2 separate regions of the Homo sapiens genome follow, and region 2 is linked to region 1. The links come from fine-mapping of genetic effects on gene expression. Tissue or cell type: monocytes. Region 1 holds a variant in brackets; the other region holds the start of a gene. All regions are shown on one strand. Distances are from middle to middle.

Region 1 (2,683 bases):
ACTTTCAAACAAGCAGCATTAGGGGGATGGTGTTAAACAATTAGGAACTGCCCTCATGATCCAATCACATCGCACCAGGCCCCTCCTCCAACAGTGGGAATTATAATTTGACATGAGATTTGGGTGGGGACACAGAGCCAAACCATATCAACTATAAACTTCATTAATAATCAACTAAGTGCAAAATAACCTAACACAGTATTGCTTTAAAATTACTGTATCTGGCTGGGCACAGTGGCTCATGCCTGTAAGTCCAACATTTTGGGAGGCTGAGGTAGGCAGATCACTTGAGGTCAGGAGTTTGAGACCAGCCTGGCCAACATGGTGAAACCCCATCTCTATTAAAAATACAAAAATTAGCCAGGCATGGTGGTGGGTGCCTGTAATCCCAGCTACTCGGGAGGCTGAGGCAGGAGAATCACTTGAATCTGGGGGATGGAGTTTGCAGTGAGTTGAGATTGCACCACTGCACTCCAGCCCGGGTGACAGAGTGAGACTCTGTCTTCACACACAAAAAAATAAAGTTACTGAATCTGCAAACATGATAACGTCAACATATAATACTGCTGATATTGAAGTGAAACTTATACTCTCATACATTGTTGTTGGCTGTTTAAATTGAGATGAAGAGGAGTTATTTTTTATTATTTTATTATTTTAAACTTGGAATTTTATCCTGAGAAAATATCATTAGGAAAGGAAAGGAAAGATTAAAATGATTGCAGCATTATTTGTAATGAAGAAAAGTTGGAAACAAACCACAGTCCAAGTCCCCCAAAAGTAACATGCTGTGGTTTTCATAAACACATGATCCTCATACGGTAACTCCAGTGATGGCACCCTGTGTGATATGCACACCATATGCGGGTGATGGCACCCCAGGTGATGGGCACACTGTATGCAGGTGATGGCCTGCCAGGTGATGGGCACACTGTATGCTGGTGATGGCACCCCAGGTGATGGGCACACTGTATGCAGGTGACAGCACCCCATGTGATGGGCACGTTATATGCAGGTGATGGTACCCCACGTGATGGGCACACTGTGACTTGGGGAATGAGACTCCCACTCTTTTTACCTCAGGGTCATTGCTGCCTGGCCATGTCGCAAAGTCCTGCAGAGCCAGGGTCACCTGTCCTTAGTGCTTGCCGCCGTGTTGTAATTGGCAGGCTTTGCTCCAACTCAGTGTGTGTAG[C/T]GAGTGCAGCAAGGGCCTGGGGACCTGAGGACAGTAATTTGACAGCTCCATCCTGGGGTGGGAGAGGTCCTGCTGCCCCTGTGGGGTGACCTATTATGGGCTGGGTGAGTGGCAGCCCTGGTGTTTGTGTTGGACTGATGGCCTCACAAGCACATTGAGGTTTCTTGCTGACAGAATCCCCATGGGGGTCATGGCATGAGTTCACGGGGCCAAACTGGTATGGGAATTTTCACCTCACCAAAGTGATGGACACTTCCCACCATCTAGTGAATTCAGGGTTAATCAAACAACACCACATCTAACGTAGTACAGTCGTGACTTTCCTGAAGCCCATGCATGGTCCGGGTAAGTGTCATCTTCTACCAAATCATCTTAGTTTTTATATGGGTGGCGAAGATTCTTGGGGGAATGAGATGCATGTGTCTCCTGGGAGTGAGCAACAGGGAGCTCTGGTGTCCTGGTGGCTCGTCCTCATTTCCCTCCACCACCCAGGCCCTCTCACCACCCAGCTGCAGCAATGATAGCTCTGCCTCTTTGTTTCTTCCCTCAAATGTGTCCATTACCCTAATCTCTCACTTCTTATGGAGTGGTTTTGTGCAAGTGCGGGCCCAGAAGTGCTTTGTGAACCCATGGCCTCAGACTTGAGCATGCAACAGATTCTCCTAGGCGGCTTGCCTAGTAACAGAGTGTGGGATGCGCCCCCAGAGGCCGGAGTCTGGGGTTGGTGTAGGGCCTGGGGATGGGCCTTTCTACTCATCTAGGTAGAAATGCCAATTAGTGAGTGACCGTGGTCTAACCCACCCCCCTTTACCAGAGGTGAGAAATTAGGAGGGGTCTGTCACCTGAGCAGCCTTGATGCGGGGAGAGCATAACAGAATGAAGACGAAGAGCACCTGCCCTATGTTTGGCACTTGATACCTGCCCTCTTTCACCCAACCCACTGCACCCTGAATGCAAATGCTTCGGGATGGCCTCGCTTCCATCGCCAACACTGAGATTCAGACCCTGGTCTTCTGACAGGGTCCCTTGGGCTTTGGCCTGGACACATCTGTGCTCCTCCTGTGTTTAGAAACTGGGTTTTGTTGACGTGACAAGAGCTAGGTGACTTTTCCACTTTGATTAGTGGGGAGTGTGGGCGAGAGCTATTTTTTCAAACTTTCCCATCAGTTTGCCAAGCAGTGTCCTTCATCAGCTTGGGAGATAAGGGCAGCACGTCGGGCCTTTGCACAGATTTACATCATCCCCTGTGTTGATCATGGAACATAAGCAAAACATCACTTTGTTTTTTTTCCCCGTGTTAAAAACAACTTCCTTTCTGAGGTGTCCCTGGATTGCAGCATTTCTTCCCTTTGAAAGTTTGACTTTGCCCTTGACTCTTGTATTGTTTTTCAGAGCATGGATTGCCCAATTTTCAGCTGCTGGTGAGTAAGCAGCACACTGCACGAAGGCAGGATTGGGAAGAGCAGATGATGGAAGCACCCGTGTGAC
Region 2 (2,683 bases), 770 kb before region 1:
CCAAGGTAGATTACATCACTAGCCTACTAAAACCCCCCCACCAAATTTCTAACAGCAAAAATTCTGAACCAATAATAAGAAGCACTTCATAACATGGCCCAGAATGATTTTCTCAGTCTTAGCTTTTTCTGCCTCCCAGCAACACAAGGCCCCATTTTAAACAGGCCTTGCACTTCCACTTCACCTTACAGGGCTTGTTATCTGGGTCTCCTCCTCCCCCTATAAGACCCTTTAAAATACATCTCATCCTTCCAAGGCCAAACTCAATGTTGCCATCTCCAGCAATGTGTTACATATAGCCTTGATGTTGCTTTTAACAATTCTATCGGCCAGGCGCAGTGGCTCACGCCTGTAATCCCAGTACTTTGGGAGGCTGAGGCGGGCAGATCACGAGGTCAGGAGATCGAGACCATCCTGGCTAACACGGTGAAACACCGTCTCTACTAAAAATACAAAAAAATTAGCCGGGCGTGGTGGCGGGCACCTGTAGTCCCAGCTACTAGGGAGGGTGAGGCAGAGCTTGAAGTGAGCCGAGATCGCGCCACTGCACTCCAGCCTGGGTGGCAGAGCGAGACTCTGTCACAAAAAAAAAAAAAAAGAAAAAAAATTCTATCAGCTAGTCTAGCTCCCTACGGTGATTACATGATCCAGGGAAGACATGCGACAAGGGCAAGATAAAACGTTCACCTAGGCCTCATTTCTGCCAAAGCAGAATGTACGTTTGATCTTTCTCCACTTCCTGGAACTTGGTATATGGCCAGCACATTTTCTTTTTATATGAGGGGATTAAAGCAGCTGTAAAAAGCTTAGTCTAACTCCACTTAAAGAAAAAAAAAAAGAGAGAGAGATCAGAGAGTCGGAGTATTTGCCCAAACGCAACATCTACCACTTCCTGAGCCTAAGCACAGTGTAGAAATCTTTCCGACTTATTTTTTTGAGACGGAGTCTCGCTCTGTCGCCCAGACTGGAGTGCAATGCTGCGATCTCGAGTCACTGCAACCTCAGCCTCCCGGATTCAAGCGATTCTCCTGCCTCAGCCTCCCAAATAGCTGGGACTACAGGCCCGCGCCACCACACCTGGCTAATTTTTGTATTTTTAGTAGAGACAGGGTTTCACCATGACCTCAAGTGATCCACCCGTCTCGGCCTCCCAAAGTGCTGGGATTACCGGAGTGAGCCACCGCGCCCGGCCGCCTTTCCAATTTTTTAAGAGCCCTAAGAGCAGTTTAGCCGAGTAAACGGAAGCCCAGGAGCCAGACTTGAGTTTAGGCAAACAGCAATCCAAAACTTTAGTTCTAAAATGCAGAGAGAAAACAACTTGCACTAAGTCACGAAAACTGGCTCGCTGGGGTCATGGACGGTCAACAGGGGCGGCGTCTTCCAGGCCTGGCCGCGCGGGCTAGAGAGGAAGCGTGCGCACTGGCAAGCCAGCACGGAACGAGCAGACGGCCAGGCCCACGGCATCCCACCGCGTCCCAGCCTGCTCCCCAGTTCCACCGCATCCCAGGACCTTCCCAGCCACGCCTGTGTTGTGCACTCGAAACCCACGATCAGCCGCCCCTTCTCCCCGTGCCACAAGACCTACGCAGCGAGCACCACCGCTGACCTCCATCCGCCGCCCTAACTGTCCCCGGAACCATGAGGTGCGCGGCGCGCTTCCCTACGTCACTCGGAGCGCCGGCGGAAACGAGACGAGCCTCGCCCCGCACGTCCGGAAGCCACGCCTCCAGCTTCCGGCCACACCTTTCGGCGGGTGACATCTTTGCTGAGGGCTCAAGCGGAGCGATAGGTCATGGGAAACTTAGAAAAGATAAAGAACCTAGGAAGAAAGGCTTCGGTTGCCCCCCGACCAGTACGCCATCCTCATACGGAGTGCGGGAGACGACCCTTTGTTGTCGGTGCTGTCACCCTATCCCTCCCTGCTTGCGTAGGCGTAGGAGAGTTCCTAGGGCGGTGGAAGACTGGGCTGGTGGAGTGGGATAGGCGACGTTGAGGCCTGTGGGGGCTGGGAGGACGAGTGAGTGGAGACTGGGGAACTCCAGAGCGCCCACTTGCAGCTGGATTTTTATGTGCAATTTTCCTGATTTTTAAATAGTGGTGTTTAATTACAAAGTAAAGTGCAGGATAGCCCAAACGAAATGTATCTGAGGTCTATATATGGACTTGATTAATTTTTACTTCCTGCACAGCCTTTTATTTTCTGTGGAGTTAATAATTACTTGGCTACGCACGGTGGCTCACGCCTGTAATCCCAGGCCTCGGTGGGCGGATCACTTGAGTTCAGGAGTTCGAGACCAGCTTGGCCAACATGGCGAAACCCCGTCTCTACTAAAAATACAAAAAAATTAGCCGGGCGTGGTAGGGCGCACCTGTAGTCCCAGCTACTAGGGAGGCTGAGGCATGAGAATCGCTTGAATCCGGGAGGTGGAGGTTGCAGTGAGCAGCGATCTTGCCACTGCACTCAGCCTGGTTGACAGAGCAAGACTCTGTCGCAAAAAACAAAACAAAAAACATAAAAATAAATAATTACGTTTGTTTGTGTTTGTAAACTAAAAATAAAATTGTAAGCCCCCCAAGCACTGAACGGACCTCCTCTTAGCCAAGGAGACCCCAGAGAAACCTTAAAAACTGAGTTCCCAGCCATTCTGGAAAGGGAGGTTGAACACCCCTTGTTAAAGTAGAG

Direction of the effects. Positions count from the first base shown, and alleles are read on the strand shown. Sizes are in standard deviations (SD) of each study's normalised expression.
In carriers of allele C in region 1, the expression in monocytes of the gene that starts at base 1,640 in region 2 tends to be lower than with T alone (large effect, 1.7 SD a copy in CEDAR).

Evidence for each region. PIP is the estimated chance that this variant, and not a neighbour inherited with it, causes the effect.
Region 2: TBRG4 starts here. The variant in region 1 is fine-mapped to the expression of TBRG4 in monocytes (CEDAR, PIP 0.95).

The regions. Positions count from the first base shown.
Region 1 is chr7:45,879,581-45,882,263 of GRCh38, forward strand. It overlaps a transcript of CCDC201 not described here. Among named protein-coding and RNA genes, the nearest start is that of IGFBP1, 7.6 kb to the right of the region's middle. The variant C/T (reference allele first, on the strand shown) is at 1,196.
Region 2 is chr7:45,110,058-45,112,740 of GRCh38, forward strand. TBRG4 (transforming growth factor beta regulator 4) reads right to left here and starts at 1,640. Exons shown (of 11, transcript NM_004749.4): 1 at 1,586-1,640. RefSeq lists enhancers at 1,339-2,048, 1,412-2,167.